Linked DNA regions of Homo sapiens: regions 1, 2 and 4 are each linked to region 3. The links come from fine-mapping of genetic effects on gene expression. A gene starts in region 3. Each other region holds a variant in brackets. All regions are shown on one strand. Distances are from middle to middle. Region 1 overlaps LOC105371888 (a long non-coding RNA gene). Region 2 has its middle 30 kb from the start of CD300LB. Region 3 holds the start of CD300LB (CD300 molecule like family member b). Region 4 holds the start of LINC02074 (long intergenic non-protein coding RNA 2074).

Region 1 (5,149 bases), 600 kb before region 3:
CAAGTCTAACTCAAGAAAATTTGCTTCATGCCACCAGAAAGCTGAGAGTATTGGTTTTCTAATTGCTGTTGTAACAAATTACCACAAAGTGAGTGGATTAAAACAACATAAAGTGTTATTTTGCAGCTCTGGAGGCCAGAAATCCAGAAATGGGTTTATGTGGCTAAAACCAAGATGGTGGCAAGGCTGCATTCCTTCTAAAAGATGTAGGGAAGAATTCATTCCTTGCCTTTTGGGTTCTGAGAATGCCTGAAATTCCTTGGCTCACAGCCCACTTCCAGCAATGGCATAACTTTGACCTTTATTTCCATGGCCACATCTCCCTCCCTGACTCTAACTGTTCTGCTTCCCCTTGTGATAACACTGAGCCAACCCATATAATCTGGGGTAATCTCCCCATCTCAAAATTCTTAATCATATATGCAGTACCCCTTTTGTCATGTAAGGTAGCATATTCACAGATTCTAGAGGTGAGGATGTGGATGTCTTTGGGGGCCATTATTCTTTCTGCCAACTTTGGGGAGCAGACTTCAGGTGCTCCTGAAGATCCAGCACAAGGAAGAGGGTGCAAGTGGCTCAAACAGTATCATCAGGGTCTTTCTTTCATCTTTATCTCTGCAGTCTGCTTCCTTCATGTTAGTCATATTCTCAAGGCCATTTCAAATAGCTTTCCCCCTGCTAGCCAAGAAAAATGCTGCCTCTAGCCCTCAATTATGGCATTTCAGATTAGTAGATATTAATAGTTTGGGAAAAAATAATCTTTCCCCCTCTATCTTTCTCTCTGCCCTGGTCCAAATACCAGTCTCTGTGTAGATCCCTTGAATTAACAAAGGGATGCTTGGGAAGAAGGGCACCGGGGAGATATACAAATCCTTGAGACAGCTAGGGTGGGGGTTCATCAACCTAATTTGTAGATTAATCAGCATGTACCCATTTAGTAATCCAAGCTGGTGATGCCAGACACATCAGCTACAAAGTGCTCTAGCAGCAAGCCTGGTCATTATTTAGTCTCTTATAGATCAGGCCAACCACACAGAGCATGTGCAGGAATCCCAGCCCTGCTCAGCCCAGAGCATTGACATTTGTGGTTAAGCAGGGCCCCATGGAAGCCACACACCCGTCCCCCTTGGTTTCACCACGTGTCTCTGTAACTTTGAGGGAAAAGGACCCTCCCTCCTGGGATGGGATGATAATTAAGAGTAATTTCAGTCCTGTTGGGCTCCAGTTACAACAATTACAGGGTTCTGGATCAATTAATACTCACATTTGCATGGAGAAGATGGTGAAATTTAGAATGTAGACCCCCCATTTAGGAGCTATAGCTAGGGTGACCCTACAGCCAGGTGTGCTAGGGACAGTCGTGGTTTGCACCTGAATTATTCATAGTTCTGCTCTTCACTCTCAAAGTGGTCCCTGTTTAAATGATCAGTGTTACGGTTACCCTAATGTTAGTAGAAGTAGAAAAGAGTTTATTTTCCCCTTCTACTGTTTCACTTACCCCTGAACCAGGTGGGGGACTCTAAGGCAGCAGCTGGAGAAGACCCCCAAATCACACAGGTACCCCTCTTCCTTGTGCCGGCTGTAAAGCCAAGGAATAAACCAACCCTTCCCATTGCAGGGAGTGGGAAGCCAGTGATGTGGCTTCCTAGTAGCTGTCCCCAGCCTCTAGACTGTACCGTCTGGATCTGCAGAGGCCTGTTCACTGTCATGCCTTCATGCAGATCTCTGGGGTAAGTGCTCTGTTGCTGTAGGAAAATAACTTACAACTTTTCTTTGAATGTATTTACATGAATGCCTATACCTTTATTTAAATGCATAAATGTTGTCATTACATGATTCATGTGTATGTGTGTGTGTGTGTTTGTGCAGACTCTTAGTTTTTTTTCCTGTTAGTTTGACTTTCCTTGACACCTCTCCTCTGTCCTCCACCCATAACCACTAGAAATTCATGCTAATAGCCTAGTAGGGATCCTTCCACATTTTTCTTCATGATCATATTATCCTGTATAAATATATACATACACACACTACATGTGGTAGACATGTATGTACATACATGTATGTAACTTTTTATACACACCCACATGCATTCACTTATACACATGTGTGCACTTATACATGTATAGCCAGCCTTTTGTCATTATTTGTTTTGCAGAAATATATGATATTCAGTTTCTTGCATCTTGTTTTCCTCACTCAACAATACCTTGGGGAACTCTCTCTCTGTCCTCCAATATTGCTCTAATTGTTTTCAATAGGGCATAATATCGCATGGTATAAATGTACTATAATTTATGCACCCAGACCTCAAGAGTGACTGCTCACTTTGTTTTCATGGGAGAAATTTCCCACATTCACCAAATATAAATGTGTGACACTGGCCGGGCGCGGTGGCTCACGCCTGTAATCCCAGCACTTTGGGAGGCCGAGACGGGCGGATCAC[G/A]AGGTCAGGAGATCGAGACCATCCTGGCTAACATGGTGAAACCCCGTCTCTACTAAAAAAAAAAAATACAAAAATTAGCCGGGCATGGTGGCGTGCGCCTGTAGTCCCAGCTACACGGGAGGCTGAGGCAGGAGAATGGCGTGAACCCGGGAGGTGGAGCTTGCAGTGAGTCGAGATCACGCCACTGCACTCCAGCCTGGGCGACAGAGCGAAACTCCGTCTCAAAAAAAAAAAAAAAAAAAAAGTGTTACACTTTTGCCCTAATGCTCCTGACTCACATCTGATTCAAAAGTCTTTAAAAACACATGTCGATTTGAAAAATATAATCAGCTGCTATTTTTTCCAAGATGTCACACTGACCCACCATCAAACTGTCGGCACAGCTTGGTACACTTGTTCCCTACGCAGAGTCACAATCAGCCTTTTGTATTCTCTGGTGTTTGTTGTCTGATTGCAATTCTGAATTGGGGTGACCATCAAAACTGGGTGCCTACACAGGAGGCATCTCAATGTATTAGAGAGGGGCCAGTCTTTGGAACAGACAGACCTGGGTTCAAATTCTGATAACCATCACCTATAAGCTGGGAGATTTGGATAAATGCTCACCTTCCCCCAGCCCCTGTTTTCTTTGTCTTTCAGATAGAAATCATGATACCAACCACATAGAGCATTAAATGAGATTATGGGTGCACAGGGCCTGGTCCCAGGGGGCCCACTGCCCAGGTGGCTTTTCCCAACCACAAATTATGAATCATGTTGGACTTGAAGGGGAAAAGTTCAAATTGATCAATAGCGATGTCAGGGGCAAACAGTCCGAGTCAGATAAGCAAACAGAAACAGGTTGTTTTTGGAATAATTGGATGCCCTGTCTTTGTTTGCAGAGCAGCGTGTGCACCATGGATGTTTAAGGAAGCTTATTGCCAGCAATGTCCAGATGACTGGTGAGCCACAGCAAGAGAGGGGCCTGGCTGCGGGAGGGATCCAGAAAGCAGGGAGCTGATGGAGGTTTAGGATTAGGACCTGAGGAAGGGATGCTAGGGCAAGGATGCGGGAGGTAGCAGTGGCCTGAACCCTCCTACACTCTGGCCACAGACTTGATGTGGCAGGAGTAGTTGGGTGGGCATTTTTCCGCCTGGCAGCAGAGGTCGCTTTCTGTCCTCTCCCCACACCATACATCACACTTTCCAACTCCACCATACTCAACCCCCTAAGAAGAAGAAAGAGGAAATGAGCTCCACAACACAGGTCTGTTACGGACTGAATATGTGTGTCCCCTCAAAATGCATATATTGAAGCCCTAACACTCCAGTGGGATGGTATTTAGATGTGGGGACTTTGGGAAGTGATTAGGGTTAGATGAGGTCACAGGGTAAGGCCCCTATGATGGAATGAATGGCCTTATAAGAAGAGGAAGGAAAAGACTAGAGAGCATGCATGCGCTGTCAGTCTCTCTCCCTCCCTCCTTGCCACGGGAGGACACAGCAAGAAGGTGGCCATCTGCAAGCCAGGAAGAGAGGCCTCACCAGGACCCACATCAGCTGGCACCTTGATCTTGGACTTCCAGCTTCTAGAACTGTAAGAAATAAACGTCTATGGCATTCTGTTATGGAAGCCCAAGCTGACTGAGACTGCAGCCCTGCCTTTCCTTTTAGGGTACCCAAAATGGAGTCCTGTGGCCAACACAAGCCGTGTGCCTCATCTCTTGCCATGTTCCAGTAGGGGGATATAGCTGTGGCCAAGACAAGTGGGGAGGTATCTGGGGTGCTCACAGGCAGGGCCTGGAGAGGAGCCCTCTTCTGGGCAACTTACACAGGACTCTGAGATACTCCTCAGCATCTCCCCTCCTTGGTGCTAGGCATGGTGTCTTGCACACAGTGGGAGCTTTATATGTGTTTGGTGAGACATTGATTAAAAATAATAGACAGCGAATACACGCAGATGTGGAGAGAGACGGAACCAGCAGTTGCTAGATTGGAGGAAAGAGTGTATTCCCGCCTCAGCCCCGCCCTGTCCACAGCTATGAATTAATCTGCGGTGGGGAGCGGGATTCCTTCATTAAAATCTCCAAAAAGGGAGTCATATTAACAGCCAGGCACACCGTTCTTTTCCCTCAAGGTAAGAAGATTCATGGCTCAAACTTACATTTTATCACGCACAACCGAATAAAAATGATCAATTTCCCTGCCCGCCTTACAGCATCCTTCCACAGTTATTAAAGTCTCTAAAAATGTTTTCCTTAAAAAAAAAAGGTTAAAAGAAAGAGAGGTGCAGAGAGTGCAAACCAAGAAGAAGCTGGGAAATGCTGCCTAGCTGAGGGCTATCCATCTTGTCAGCTGCAGACCACATAACCTTGATGTCACTATATTTTCTGCTCATATCCAAATTTACAATTTGCCAGCCAAGGATATGGAAATGCCAAACCTCCCCCTTGGAGGTGGATGCTGGAAGGTTCTTAAAGAGCCTGAGAGAGAGGAGCATCCTAGCTCTGAAAACTCCAAAAAGACACTGAGCCTGCTGCTGGACTCTTAGCAATTTTCCCTGAGTTGGGAAAAACCAGCCTCCAAGGTCAAGGAGATGGATTTCAACTCCAGGGCCACACACACATTCAGCAAGAGCCCCTTTGTTCATTGAAGAACAAGCAGGTTTCCACTTTGGAGGGCCAGAAATGTACCTGTGCAAGTTAGGAAATGGGAGGGTTGGGCCACG
Region 2 (5,149 bases), 30 kb before region 3:
AGTCTCCTTCCTCCTACCCTACCCCTAGTACCATTCCACAAAAGTGACTACTGTTAGCCATTTCTTACACAGCTTTCAGAAAACTTATTATTATTTCAAAATTATTTTCAAAAGGGCTAATCCAGGCGCAGTGGTTCACATTTGTAATCCCAGCACTTTGGGAGGCCGAGGCAGGCGGATCACCTGAGGTCAGGAGTTCAAGACCAGCCTGGCCAACTTGGTGAAACCCTGTCTCTACTAAAAATACAAAATTAGCCAAGTGTGGTGACACACACCTGTAATCCCAGCTACTTGGGAGGCTGAGGAAGGAGAATCGCTTGAGCTCAGGAGGCAGAGGTTGCAGCGAGTCAAGATCGCGCCACTGCACTCCAGCATGGGCGACACAGCAAGACTCCATCTCCAAAAAAAGTGGGGGGAGGGGCTCATAATTCTTCATACCTCACTTTTGCATATGTCCTAGAGACCTTGTTATACAAGTACACACAAATCTACCTCATTCTTTTATATGTGATTCCACAGTTTTAATTCATTCCGTTATTTACTCATTTACTTGATGACTTTTATTGAATACCTACTATATACCATGGAGCTATACAGCAGAGACATAGCAGTGAAGAAGATAAATGAGGCCCCTTCTGTCTGGTCCTTGTATCTTAGTGGGCAGTAGACAGAACAAACAAAACAAAAGCAAGCTTCGTTCAGATCATCACAGAACTGCTGTGTGAAGATCTGAATTGTGTACAGCTGAGAGTGATGAGAGGCAGGAAGGGCTGCTTGCATAGGGAGGTCATGGAGGGACTTCCTGACATTTGAGCTGAGACTTGAGAAGGAGCCAGCCACACAATAATATAGAGTGAGAGCATTCCTGGCAGAGGAAACAGCTCAGGCAAAGGCTCTAAGGGGGAACAAGGCTAGTGTGTCCCAGGCTTAGGGTGCCGGCCAGATGAGTACAGAGTAGACAATGTGGGGAGCTTGGTGGGAGGCAGACGCAGAAAGGCAGAGGCAGGCAGTGGTCAGATCAGGGAAGGGTTAATACGCAAATGTGTGGATTTTGTCCTAAGTGGAAACTCTGAAAAATTTCAAGCAAGGGAGTCACACAATGGCACCTTGGAATGGGGTGGTGGATGTGGCCATTGGAGAAGGTGGACAAGCTCAGAATGCATTCTGGCCGTAGAGCCAACCCAACAGGCTGAAGGATTGGATGTGGGAGGGAGTGAAAAGAAAGGAATAAAAATTGCAGGTGACTTCTACGGTTTTCACTTGAGCAATTGGGAGGGCAGTAAAGGTGGGTCCCTTTACGGAAATGGAAAGACTAAGAGAGCAGCAGTTTTGGGGTGGAATTGGGGAGAGGAAACAGGGACTCTGTTGGGCGTACAGATGCTCAAATAAAGATGACAAGCCCCCTATTGGCTGTATGAGTCAGGCGCTGGGGGAGGGACTGGAGCTGTAGGTGCACAATGCATGCCGATGTATCTGTGTGTCATACAAGGCCCCATGTATGACTGCGTGTGTATACACATGCACAGATGCACACATTGTTATGTCATCCCAGACCATGTTTTTGTATTTTTGTACCTGTATCTTGGTATATATCTGAGTATATCTTTTTTTTTTTTTTTTTTTTTTTTTTTTGAGACAGAGTCTTGCTCTGTTGCCCAGGCTGGAGTGCAGTGGTGTGATCTTGGCTCACTGCAACCTCTGTCTCCCGGGTTCAAGCGATTCTTCTGCCTCAGCCTCCCAAGTAGCTGGGACTACAGGCGTGCACCACCACACCCAGCTAATTTTTGTATTTTTAGTAGAGATGGGGTTTCACCGTGTTGGCCAGGCTGGTCTCGATCTCCTGACCTCGTGATCTGCCCACTTCAGCCTCCCAAAGTGCTGGGATTACAGGCGTGAGCCACCACGCCTGGCCTATCTGAGTATATCTTTAGGAGAAATTTCCAATAGTGGAGCATTAGTCAAAAGGTCCATGAATTGACTTTTTTTTAATAGATCTTGACAAATTTTCCTTCAAAAAGCTCTTGCCCACTGTCATGCCAAGCGTCAGGTTCCAGCCCATGTTGAGGTCTGAGGGGAGTGGGTGGATGGGTGGCGAATAGCGGAAGGAATATTTAGGGGGCTGTAGGCAGGTAAAATATGGTTTTATTCAGCAGCTTTTTCATCAGCAGTTTTTTTTATATACTTTAAGTTCTAGGGTACATGTGTACAATGTGCAGGTTTGTTACATAGGTATATATGTGCCATGTTGGTTTGCTGCACCCATCAGCTCGTCATTTACACTAGGTATTTCTCCTAATGCTATCCCTCCCCCAGCCCCCCACCCCTTGACAGGCCCCGGTGTGTGATGTTCCCCACCCTGTGTCCAAGTGTTCTCATTGTTCGATTCCTACCTATGAGTGAGAACATTCGGTGTTTGGTTTTCTGTCCTTGTGATAGTTTCATCAGAAGCTTTCTCATACAATTCACCTTTATCTCGGCTGCCTGCTCCAGCTTTGCGGCTCTTGCCATTCCCAGGCTTACAGCTGCATTCCCTGGCCTACAAGCCTGGCTCTCCCTTATGGGGTCAGCAGTTTTACTCTCTGCCTCTGGGCACAAGCCATGCCGAACCACATGTACAGCGTCAGCAGGGCAGTTATACCTTTTACAGACAATAGTGGCTCTGAGCCACTTACACAAACAGATTAC[A/G]TAACAAGTGGAGTTATGCGCCTGCGCGCCAGACTCCCTGAGTCACGCTGGCCCTGATGTTTGCCTCTGCCTGTTTTGTTTTTGTTTTTGTTTTTGTTTTTTGAGACGGAGTTTCGCTCTGTCGCCCAGGCTGGAGTGCAATGGTGCAATCTCGGCTTACTGTAACCTCCGCCTCCCAGGTTCAAGCGATTCTCCTGCCTCAGCCTCCCGAGCCACCACACCCAGCTATTTTTTTTTTTTTTTTGTATTTATAGTAGAGATGGGGTTTCACCATGTTGGCCAGGCTGGTCTCAAACACCTGACCTCTGGTGATCCACCCGCCTCAGCCTCCCAAAGTGTTAGGATTGCAGGCGTGAGCCACCGCACCTGGCTAACCTATTCTTGACCAAAGCACATCCATGTACCTTACACCCACTTACCTTCCCATCAAGAACACTCAACGATGTCCCTTTCCCTACACTCTCGCCAGTATTGGATATTTTCACACTCTATTTTCTTTTCAATCTGATAGAAGAAAATAATATCTTATAATTTTCAGAATTTGCATTCCTTTATTTGCCATTTTAGTTTTTTTCCTGTGAACTATCCATTTGCCCATTTTGCCATTGAGCTTTTAATCTATCTTACTGAGTTCCTCCGAGTGCTTTGTAAATTAAGAAAATAAGCTCTCTGTCAAATTGCCTGCAACATTTCCTTCATAGCTTGTCATTTTTTAAAAAACTTTCAAAGGTGTTTTCACCCAGTGATGTTTCATCTTTTTTCTGAGGTCAGATTTCTCAATCATTTGCTTTATAAAGTTTGAGTTTTCCTTAGGATGCTCCATTTCAAGAGTCTAATAAATTCACCCATTATTCTAAAACTTTTGTAAATTTCATTTTATATTTTCAGTTTATTCTAAAACTTGCAGTTTTCAGTTTATTCTAAAACTTTTAAATAGTCTAAGACTTTAGAAAGATTTCAGTTTATTCTAAAACTTGTGTAGTTTCTTCGTATTTAAATCTTTGATCCATTTGAAACTATTTTGGCTTACAGAGTGCGGTATGAACAGAACTTGAGTTTGTATAAGACTTAGCCAGCTGTCTCTACATCACTGATTGAGTAACCCCTCGTGTCCCATGCATAGTCCTAGGCGCCACTGTGCTGGATCAGAAGCGAAGGGAGAAGGTTAAGTGACTCACTCAGTATTTGACCACAACACTGCTTAGCTCAAAAGTCCACCTTGCTGCCCCCTTTTAGTTAAAATGAGCCTGTTAGTGAGACCCTTGATTTTTTTAGCTTTTTTTATTTTTAGTTTTTCTGGGTCATAGTAGGTGTATATATTTATGAGGTGCCTCGGGAGCATTCTGGACCATCACAGACGCTTTGGGTAACTCTTACATTGGAGGGTAAGCCCATCCCCTTCTTAATCAATACGGAGGCTACCCACTCCACATTACCTTCTTTTCGAGGGCCTGTTTCCCTTGCCTCCATAACTGTTGTGGCTATTGACGACCAGGCTTCTAAACCTCTTAAAGCTCCCCAACTCTGGTGCCAACTTGGACAACATTCTTTTATGCACTCCTTTTTAGTTATCCCCACCTGCCCAGTTCCCTTATTAGGTGAGGCATTTTAACTAAATTGTCTGCTTCCCTGACTATTCCTGGGCTATAGCCACACCTCATTGCTGCCCTTTTCCCCAGTTTAAATCCTCCTTCGCATCATCCCCTTGTGTCTCCCTACCTTAATCCACAAGTATAGGACACCTCTACTCCCTCCTTGGTGACCGATCATGCACCCCTTACCATTCCATTAAAACCTAATCACCCTTACCCCGCTCAACACCAGTATCCCATCCCACAGCACACTTTAAAAGGATTAAAGCCTGTTATCACTGGCCTGCTACAGCATGGCCTTCTAAAGCCTATAAACTCTCCTTGCAATTCCTCCATTTTACCTGTCCAAAACCCGGAAAAGTCTTACAGGTTAGTTCAGGATCTGCACCTTATCAACCAAATTGTCTTGCCTATCCACACCGTGATGCCAAACCCATATACTCTCCTATCCTCAATACCTCCCTCCACAACCCATTATTCTGTTCTAGATAAATGTAGCTGACCCCATAGATCCTAAATCCTTTCCCCACTCCTCTTTCCATTCCTTAAAAAACTCATCCCAACCCTTTTCATTACACACAGCTGAAGTACAGGACTGTGTGGTCGGAATTCTTACACAAGAGCTGGAACCACGCCCTGTAGTCTTTCTGTCCAAACAACTTGACCTTACTGTTTTAGCCTAGCCCTCATGTCTGCGTGCAGCGGCTGCCACTGCTTTAATATTTTAGAGGCCCTCAAAATCACAAACTATGCTCAACTCACTCCGTACAGTTCTCATAACTTCCAAAATCTATTTTCTTCCTCCCACCTGATGCATATACTTTCTGCCCTCCGGCTCCTTTGGCTATACTCACTCTTTGTTGAGTCTCCCA
Region 3 (5,149 bases):
GCTCATGCCTGTATTCCCGCACTTTGGGAGGCCAAGGTGGGTGGATCACCTGAGGTCAGGAGTTCAAGACCAACCTCACCAACATGGTGAAATCCTGTCTCTACTAAAATTACAAAAATTAGCCAGGCATGGTGGCAGGCACCTTAATCCCAGCTTCTTGGGAGACTGAGGCAGAAGAATCACTCGAACCTGGGAGGCGGAGGTTGCAGTGAGCCAAGGTTGCACCACTGCACTCCAACCTGGGTGACAGAGTGAAACTCCGTCTCAAAAACAAAAAACAAAAACAAAAACAAAATACCCAAAAACATAAATTGGATTTGTCAGCAATCACTAACAGCAGAAAAGAGATGCTGCTGCATTGAACAAAGTGTCATCAATCCCAGCTTCAGTCATTCAAACTGTAAATGGCTCACGATGTAATTAGTCCCGTTTAAAAAAATATTTGGGGGTTTCTCTAACCACAGAATATGATGGCTGGAACTATTAATCAGGCTTCTATATGTTGTCAAGAGTTGGTATGAGGAACGATAGAGATGGAAATGACAGGGCAGCCGTCAGCTTGGAGCAGAGCCCCGTTGAACGGGCTGAAGGGTGGAAGTCCAGCCAGGACTGGAGTCGGGTCTCAGAACTCCCCAGCCATGCTCTTTCCTGTTGTCCCTCCGTGGACTGCTCTATCTGTGCCAGATGGTCAGTCCCTAGGCACCAGCAGAAAACTGTGTGGCCCACACACATTGCACACCCTGCGTAAAATTCTAGATTGTCCCCTAATGCCCTCTAGGTGTCCACCAAGGTTTGCCATGGAGAAGATCATCTAGCCCTTCCCACTTTCCACCTGGGTTCTTGAGAAGTTTTTTCTTTGAAAGTCTCAGCTCCTGAGCCTGGCGTGGATGGCCTTCATAATCTTGTCTTTTGTGTTTCCAACCTCATATCCAACTCGCCACCTCCAAGACATCCTGCACACTGACAGCTCCCTCTGCATGAATCCACCATTCTTTCTAAGCCTCCATCTCTCTGCCCAGGTCCCCCAACACACACACACACACACACACACACACACACACACACACACCCAACTCTCTAGAGTGTTCTCCTCTCAGCTCTGCTCCAGAGACTGACCTTCCTTCTACAAGGCACATCAAGTGCACAGCTTCGTGAGTCTTTCTCTAGTCACCAGAGAGAACTGCTTCATCCTCCGCACACGCCTCCACCAATGCCTTATTGTGTCCTGCAATTGCTCATTGTTTATGTGTATGTCTCACCCACTAAGCCATCTGGAGTCTTTTTACTTTATTTTTTTTTTGAGACAAGGTCCCACTGTATCACCCAGGCTGGAGTGCTGTGGTGCGATCATAACTCTGCAGAATTGAATACCTGAGCTCAAAGGATCCTCCAGCTTCAGCCTCCCAAGTAGCTGGGACTACAGGCACGGTCACCACGCCCAGCTAATTTTTGTTCATTTTATATAGAGACGAGGTCTCACCATGTTGCCCAAACTGGTCTTAAACGCCTGGACTCAAGCAATCCTCCCACCTTGGCCTCCCAAAGTGTTAGGATTATAGGTGTGAGCCATGGCCTCAAGCCTGGAGTCTTCTTTAATGGCCAGTTCTCCTCCTCTTTTTTCTTGATGTCCTCAGGCCCCGAAGCACACGATGTCAGTCCCCAGTGCACCTTTGTCGAATGACTTCACAAAGCCACCTCTCATTTCCCTGGATGTGGAAGGACAAATGCCCTCTGCCTCCTGCCCTGCCCCTGTCATACCAAGCGCCCAAGGCCCCAGCCCCACTCACCTGAGAGGCTGAGAAGGAGCAGAGCAGGGGGCAGCCACATGGCTCTGCCTTCCCGGCTCCTCGTCCGCCTGATCTGCAACCAGTGGCAAATGCAGATCCCAGATGCACTCTGGAAGTTCTGCCTGAGCTCTGGCTTGCACCTTCTGCACATCTAGACCGCCTTTGACTTTCTTACTCATTCACTTCCTTTTATAGAGTGGGTAGTTCCTGCTTTTAATTATTAAACGAAAGAGGTGTCATTTTTTGGCAGGGCTGCGCCACAGGGCTTAAGCATCGTCACTATGTAAAAAAGAGGAGGGAGGGGACTGTGCAGGGTCTTTAGGGTAGGGGGAGATACGTCTGCAGAAGGGGTGGGGTGGGGGGCGTCTGGCCTAGCAGGCCTTGGGTCCAAGGGGTATAACACTCTGGGAGTCAATTTCAGAGCTGTTCTATACCACAGTGAACACCCAACTCAGATGTCGGATGGGTCATGCTGGGCACACCTGAACATGCATTTGTTCAGGTGTTATAGCCAAGTGCATAAACATGCAGACTGTTGGGTCAGACAGACCTGGCTCTAACCCCACGAGCACCACCTACAAGCTGCGTGACTGTGGACAATGCAATCAACATCTCTGTGCCTCAGTTATTGTATCTATTAACTGGGCTCATAATGTTTGTTGTTGTTATAGGAGTTATTAAGAAATTATTTTAGGTAGATAGGAAAAGGGGTGCTTGGGAAGATTTTTTTTTCTTTTAAAGCAGCTCCATAAATGTTTCTTGTCTAGAAGAAAAGCCCTGGCTCTTAGAGCTGGGCAGGCAAGCTTTGATATGCAAATACAGGCCATTAGAAACTGCGTCCACCCAAACATGGAGACTCCCGCCTCTTCTTCTTTTCCCCACGTTCCTGGCAACATGGCCGCCCCTACATACACCCATGTGTGTAGAACATCATGGCGCCTGTATTTGCATATTAAAAGGCTAGGGTAGGAAGGCTAGTTTTTTCGTGGGCTACTTGAATGACATACCTGGTCAAACCAATCCCCTGGGCCCTATGCAAATCAGGTACCGCCTCCTCCAGCCTCCTCATATAACTGGCTGTTTTCCACCGTACTCGAGGTTCCCTCTTTCAGCTTGGAGCCCGCCTCCCTCAGTCTCAGAACAGGGGGAGCCTCTTCCTTCCTTCTTTCTTGTCTATTAAATTCTCCACTCCTTAAAACCACTCCACGTGTGCCCATGTTGTTTTATTCAAACCAGTGGGAGACCAAGGACCCTAGTGTTCCTCCAGTCATCAGAGCCATACCATTTTGTTGCATTGGCCGGGAATCCAAGGTACGACACTCATCGGAGTGGTAAGTATGGGAGTGAGCTTAAAATCTCTTCTATCATTCCGAGGCACTCTTAGCCTCTATTTTAAAATAAAATAAGTCAATGGGCATCCGTCAGCCGGGTACATACACTTAGTGTTGGCTGCCATACTGAAGACTCGAATGTGAGGCTTGCTGCTGAGAACACGGAGAACCCCCCAACACCCCTGGGTCATTGGGAATGTTGGCCATGTTTTAAATCAGCTTCTTTTCACGGGAAGACCTCGCCATTGTGCAAGGCTGGGAAAAGTTCTAAGGCAACTAACAATTTCTGGCCAGAGCACACCCTGGCATGATTCAAAGGCCCCTGGACTGGACCCAGCCTCTGGCGGCCCATTCTGGGTGTTGGCAAAGAATCCTCAACTATCTTGTCACAAAACTCTCCTTCCTTCTCTATCTGCGGTCTCTTACACTTTCTTTGTGTGAAATGTGTAGCGAGTTTTACAGCCTAGGAAAGTAATCCTGTTAGGCAAAATCAGGAAGATGCCCTTGCAATCTTCTAGGAACAGAGTTCTCCCCTTTCTCCCACCGTGAGGTTACTCACTACCACGTCTCTAGTGAGCACATAGTATTTCTAAGCCAACAGTGCCACCTAGTAGAAATAGAAATCCTCTACATAAAGCATATTTTTTCATGGCAAACCGCAGCTTCTTTTTGCATGATTAGAAATCAGGCTCGGCCAGGCGCGGTGGCTCATGCCTGTAATCCCAGCACTTTGGGAGGCCGAGGCGGGCAGATCATGAGGTCGGGAGATCGAGACCATCCTGGCTAACACAGTGAAACCCCGTCTCTACTAAAAATACAAAAAAAAATTAGCCAGGCGTGGTGGCGGGCGCCTGTAGTCCCAGCTACTCGGGAGGCTGAGGCAGGAGAATGGCGTGAACCCGGCAGGCAGAGCTTGCAGTGAGCCGAGATCGCGCCACTGCACTCCAGCCTGGGCAACAGAGCAAGACTCGGTCTCAAAAAAAAGAAAAGAAAAGAAAAGGAAAGAGAGAGAGAGAGAGAAAGAAAGAACAAGAAAAGAAAAAAGAAAAAGAAATCAGGCTCTAGGCCTCTTCTTGAAATGGGAAAGTTCTGCCTTTAGCAGTTAGGAGTTAAGAAGTCTTCCATAGCCAAATTTTAGTCTCAATATTGTCCCATTGGCAGGAAAATGGCCATTCGGTTCCTACATTCCTTTAAGGCACCTATTCTGTCTCCGATTAAGATGGTACTTAATTAGTAAGGGGATTTTTAAGTCCAGAAGTTAACCAGAACCATTTTTCTAAGGGTAAATGCTTTAGCACAGGCCATAATAATAGCAAGATATAAAGTTCAATCTAGCACGCCCCCTCCCTTAAAGAGGCTTTGCCCAATTATGTAGTTTTTCTTTTTTTTTCTTTTCTTTTCTTTCCTTTTTTTTTTTTTTTTTTTTTTTTTTGAGATGGAGTCTTGCTCTTGCCACCCAGGCTGGATTGCAGTGGTATGATCTCAGCTCACTGCAACCTCCACCTCCCGGGTTCAAGTGATTCTCCTGCCTCATCCTCCCAAGTTGCTGGAATTACAGGTGCCCGCTACCATGTGTGGCTAATTTTTGTATTTTTAGTGGAGACAGGGTTTCACCATGTTGGCCAGGCTGGTCTTGAACTCCTGACCTCAGGTGATCCACCCACCTTGCCCTCCCAAAGTGCTAGAATTACAGACATAAGTCACCACACCTGGCCCGTAGTTTTTCTTAAAATCGTTGTTTTTTTGTTTTGTTTTTTAGGGAAGCACACAGGTCACACAGGAGGTCAAAAAGAAATAAAAGACTAAGGTGCTTGTGGAAGTGTAAGTGGGCCCAGAAGTCTAGTTTCTCTGGTGCCATGGCTTGGAGGGTCACGCCTGCAGTCATGGCCAGCACATTTAAATGGGTGCCAGGATCCAGGAACCAGGGAAAGAAAATAGTTGGGGGAACGCCCCCTACTGTGTTCTCCATCCTGGATCACATACTGAAAGGAAGGAGACTAAAATAATGCTTTTATTCTCACTTCTCTTTCT
Region 4 (5,149 bases), 420 kb before region 3:
CACCTCCTGACTCTCAATCTCTGGGGGACAGGGGGCGGTGGGAACGAGAAAGAATTGATGGGGGCCTCCTCCTGTGTCCCTGAACAAACAGAGCACTTGCAAGAAAAGTGCTTAGGAACTAATCACCCCTACGAGTGGGAGGGGTGCCCTTCAGATGGTAAATCTCCCCATTACCAAGGACGCTTCCTTTATTGTGGATTCGCAGTCTCCTCAGAGAAGCATCCAAGGAGCTTGGCATCTCCCTTGCTCCTGGTGAGACCGGAAGGCAGGCTGGTCCCCAGCTCTTCAGAGTGGAGCTGGGAAGAGCTGCAGCTGCCCCAACGCTGGGAAGTCACCAGTCCTTAGGGTTGCTACGTTTAGCAGATGAAAATTCAGGATGGGCCAGGTGTGATGGCTCACACCTGTAATCCCAGCACTTTGGGAGGCCGAGGCAGGTAGATCACCTGAGGTCAGGAGTTCGAGACCAGCCTGGCCAACACGGTGAAACCCTGCCTCTACTAAAAATACAAAAATTAGCTGGGCGTGGTGGTGGGTGTCTGTAATCCCAGCTGCTCCGGAGGCTGAGGCAGGAGAATCACTTGAACCCGGGAGGCAGAAGTTGCTGTGAGCCAAGATCACGCCACTGCACTCCAGCCTGGGTGACAGAGCAAGACTCCATCTCAAAAAAAGAAAAAAAAAAAAAGACATAACAGCCAGGTAAATCTGAAAAACAGCTCTAACTGCCTAACTTGTAATGTTTTGGTGAGAGACAGCTAAATAATATTTAGGGTGTTCCAACAGGGTCAATATGGGTCAAAGGACAACATCTGTTAGCTCAGAAGAAATCTGTCAGCACAGAGCATATGCGTTGGCCGGGCACGGCGGCTCATGCCTGTAATCCCAACACTTTGGGAGGCCAAGGTGGGAGAATCGCTTGAGCACATTTCAAAAATCAGCCTGGACAACATAGGGATATCCCTGTCTCTACAAAAATAAAAAAAAAAATGAGCCACGCCTGGTGGCACGTGCCTGTGGTCCCAGCTACTTGAGGGGCTGAGATGAAAGGATTGCTTGTTGAGATCAAGGGTGCAGTGAGCCGTGATCACGCCACCGCATTCCAGCCTGGGAGACAGAGCAAGACCCTGTCTCAAACAAAAAAAATGTGTATACACAGGGCCCCTGGCCACCGTCCCCGCTCGAAACCCCACGCAAGTGTGTGGGAAGTGCCCTGCCCCACACACAGTAATCTGTCTGCTCCTCCCAGGGTGAACTCCGTATGAATGACAGCCTGGCAGTCTGTGTGTGCTTCCCCACTAGGGTAGGGGCCCAGAAAAGGGCTCTCCAAAGTGGGCTGATAACATTTTGGACTGTTAAGTCTTTTCATCCTAGGGGGCCTTCCTGGTGGAAGCAGGCTTCAAAGAAAGATTTATGTACACCACAGAGCTCCAGCATCTCCTACATTTAAAAGTCTGGGACACTCTCAAAGGACCAAATAAGTTGCATTGGAACAAAAGTGACAAACAGGAAGGCGGGATAGGTAGGGGGCGGGTAGTGCCATGGGGCTTGGACACTGTGGCTGGCAAGTCATTTCACCCTTCTGAAACTGGTTTTTTTAATTTTATAGTTAAAGGATCTTGTTATGTTGCCCAGGCTGATCTCAAACACCTGGGTTCAAGCGATCCCCCTGCTTCGCCTCCCAAAGCGCTGGGATTCCACTGGCCGGCTTGAAACCCTCTTATTTGTGGGATGAAGACTGCCCAGCCCACAGGTTGTTTTGAAGATCACATGGGGTGATGGAAATAAAAATGCTTTCAAATAGCAAGCTGCGGCCGGGCACAGTGGCTCACGCTGTAATCTCAGCACTTTGGGAGGCTGAGGCGGGTGGATCACGAGGTCAGGAGATCTCTCGAGACCATACTGGCTAACACAGTGAAACCCCATCTCTACTAAACAAAAATAGAAAAATTAGCCAAGCGGCTACTCGGAGGCAGAAGAATGGCGCGAACCCGACAAGCGGAGCTTGCAGTGAGCCAACATGGCGCCACTGAACTCCAGCCTGGGCGACAGAGCAAGACTGTCTCAAAAAAAAAGTAAAAAAAAATAAAAATAGCAAGCTGCTACAGAATGGAATATAAGCTCCTAATAAAATTGGACATGACCTGACACCGAGTACCAAGCTAAACACTTCACGTGCTTTATCTCAGCGCCTCTCAGTTAATCTCATCGTCACATGCCTATGGGGCCAATCCATAACTTCTTCACTTTGCATCTGTGGAGCTCAGAGGTCTTGTACGGCCTGGCCCCACAGTCGGTAAATGAAACACAGACCCTGGCCGGGTGCGGTGGCTCACACCTGTAATTCCAGCACTCTGGGAGGCCAAGGCAGGCAGATCACGAGGTCAGGAAATTGAGACCATCCTAGCTAACATGGTGAAACCCGGTCTCTACTAAAAATACAAAAAAATCAGCCAGGCATGGTGGTGGGCGCCTGTAGCCCCAGCTACTTGGGAGGCTGAGGCAGGAGAACGGCGTGACTCCGAGGTGGAGCTTGCAGTGAGCCGAGATGGAGCCCCCACACTCCAGCCTGGGAGACAGAGTGAGACTCTTGTCTCAAAAAAAGACCCTGATTCCAAACCCGGTGTTCATTCATTCCTTGTTCAACAACGATTCAGCAAATGTTTGCTGCCATCAGCAGAGTTCAGGGTATCAAAAAGAAAGCAGTGGATGGGAGACACCCACTCTTGCTCTCATAAAACTCAGTCTATTAGAACCATCACCACAGGAGAAAGGATAATTTTCCAAGCATTTACAAGGCACCAAGGACCGTGCTAGGTACTTTCCATGATATAGGAACTAATGTTATTCCCATTATTTCAATGAAAACCGAAATTCAAAAAGGC[G/A]AAATGATAAACCCAGGTCACACAGCTACGGTGGAGCTTGGATTTGAACCCAAGTCCTGGACTCCAGAGGCCTTATTCTCCCTTGCTGCTACGCTAGAGAAACAAAAAGCTTTCATTGTGATGATTTAAAGCTTAACCCTCACTATAAGGATAGTGACCCCATATATTACCATGTTGTGTCTGGAATTTGTGGATTCTTGGTCTTACTAACCTCAAGAATGAAGCCGTGAACCCTCGCACTGAGTATTACAGTTCTTAAAGGCGGCGTGTCCGGAGTTTCTTCCTTCTGGTGGGTTAGTGGTCTCGCTAAGCTTCAAGAGTAAAGCTGCAGACCTTCATGGTGAGTGTTACAGCTCATAAAGGCAATATAAACCCAAAGTGAGCAATAGCAATATTTATTGCAAAATAGTGCAGAGTGAAAGAACAAACCTTCCACAGCACAGAAAGATAACCAAACGGGTTGCTACCGCTAGCTCCGGCAGCCTGCTTTTATTCTCTTATCTGGCCCCACCCACATCCTGCTGATTGGTCCATTTTACAGAGAGCCCATTGGTCTGTTTTACAGAGAGCTGATTGGTCCGTTTTGACAGGGTGCTGATTGGTGCGTTTACAATCCCTGAGCTAGACACAAAAGTTCTCCACATCCCCACTAGATTAGCTAGATACACAGTGTCGATTGGTGTATTTACAAACCCTGAGCTAGACACAGAGTGCTGATTGGTGCATTTACAAACCTTGAGCTAGATACAGAGTGCCGATTGGTGCATTCACAATCCCTGAGCTAGACATAAAGATTCTCCAAGTCCCCACCAGATTCAGGAGCCCAGTTGGCTTCACCCAGTGGAGCCGCCTGCCCGCCCGGCGCCGTTCGCCCGCACTCCTCAGCCCTTGGGCGGTAGATGGGACTGGGCGCAGCGGAGCAGGGCGCGGCGCTTGTCAGGGAGGCTCGGACCGCGCAGTAGCCCACGGCGGGGGCGGGGGCGGGGGCGAGGGCAGGGGCGAGGCTCAGGCATGGCAGGCTGCAGGTACCGAGCCCTGCCCCGCGGGGAGGCAGTTAAGGCCCTGCGAGAAATCGAGCGCAGCGCCGGTGGGCCAGCACTGCTGGAGGACCCGACGCACCCTCCGCAGCTGCTGGCCCGGGTGCTAAGCCCCTCACTGTCGGCCGGCCGCTCCGAGTGCGGGACCCGCCAAACCCACGCCCGGGGAACTCTACCAGCAAGCGCTGTGCGCAGCCCCGGTTAGCCCCCGTGCCTCTTGCTCCACACCTCCCCGCAGCCTGAGGGAGCCGGCTCCAGCCTCCACCATCCCAGGAAGGGGCTCCCACAGTGCAGCAGCGGGCTGAAGGGCTCCTCAAGCGCGGCCACAGTGGGCGCCGAGGCCGAGGAGGCACCAAGAGCGAGCGAGGGCTGTGAGGGCTGCCAGCATGCTGTCACCTCTCAATGTCAGGTTTTCAGAGTCTAAGTTTGTGAAATTTAGAAAGAAGAGGAGAATCGCTGGGTATAGATGTAAAACAATGCTTTGTAGGAAGGATCTAACATTTTCTTTCAGGATGAGGGCAGGAGTGCGTATCTGAGGCTTTGGCTCAAAGACAAAGAGGGAGAGAGAGGGCTTCACCTCATGATCTACAACATTTCCACGATGTACCACCGCGTCCCGGCTCCCCGATCCCCTTGGAAGAATTCGTTCTCTCGGTCAGAGCGACCTCGCACGCTGATCGGTCGAGGGACCCGCCATGCTCAGGGCTCAGCACCCCCGAGTTAAGGAGACAAGAGCAGCCATCTCCCGGCCCCCAAGCACCCGGACTCACACCCGCCTCTGCTGCGACTTCACCAAGGAAGGAAAAATGGCTCGAAATGCCTGTACATTAAGAAGCGTATAATTATGCATAATAAAAAGACGCCGGCCCTTGTGTATATAAACACAGCTTTGACTGAGTGCCTTCTCCCAGGCAGCCCTTCTGGCTCTCAACAGCAGCAGTGGAACATCTTAAACATATGGTCGCCATCCAGGCCTCCAGGCAGATCTGAACTGGGGAGGGGGTGGGGGCAGGGGCAGGCGGGAGGTGGAGACGGGACGGGGATACAGGAAAATCAGGAGATGGTTGTTTGGGGAAGAGGGTTACACGGAGAGCTGGTGGGCCAGGGGTCAGACATTTACAATCAGGACATAATCTGTGACCTGCCACCCCAAGTTGAGCTGTCTTTCTCTCTCCCTCCTCTGCCCCAGGCTCAATTTGCCCCCAAAGACAATAATAGGGAGTTCTGCCACCT

What was found.
Region 1: its variant is fine-mapped to the expression of CD300LB in whole blood (INTERVAL, PIP above 0.99).
Region 2: its variant is fine-mapped to the expression of CD300LB in whole blood (TOPMed, PIP above 0.99).
Region 4: its variant is fine-mapped to the expression of CD300LB in whole blood (INTERVAL, PIP 0.98).

What each region holds. Positions count from the first base shown.
Region 1 is chr17:73,933,826-73,938,974 of GRCh38, forward strand. All of the region lies in intron 5 of LOC105371888 (a long non-coding RNA gene), which reads right to left. Among named protein-coding and RNA genes, the nearest start is that of LINC00469, 110 kb to the left of the region's middle. The variant G/A (reference allele first, on the strand shown) is at 2,444.
Region 2 is chr17:74,499,239-74,504,387 of GRCh38, forward strand. No RefSeq gene overlaps it. Among named protein-coding and RNA genes, the nearest start is that of CD300LB, 30 kb to the right of the region's middle. The variant A/G (reference allele first, on the strand shown) is at 2,686.
Region 3 is chr17:74,529,524-74,534,672 of GRCh38, forward strand. It overlaps CD300LB (CD300 molecule like family member b), which reads right to left and starts at 1,952. Exons shown (of 4, transcript NM_174892.4): 1 at 1,788-1,952. The coding sequence starts at 1,827. LOC107985074 (a long non-coding RNA gene) reads left to right here. Exons shown (of 3, transcript XR_007065902.1): 2 at 3,024-3,118. It also overlaps a transcript of CD300C not described here.
Region 4 is chr17:74,109,556-74,114,704 of GRCh38, forward strand. LINC02074 (long intergenic non-protein coding RNA 2074) reads right to left here and starts at 3,344. Exons shown (of 5, transcript NR_184085.1): 1 at 3,091-3,344. The variant G/A (reference allele first, on the strand shown) is at 2,880.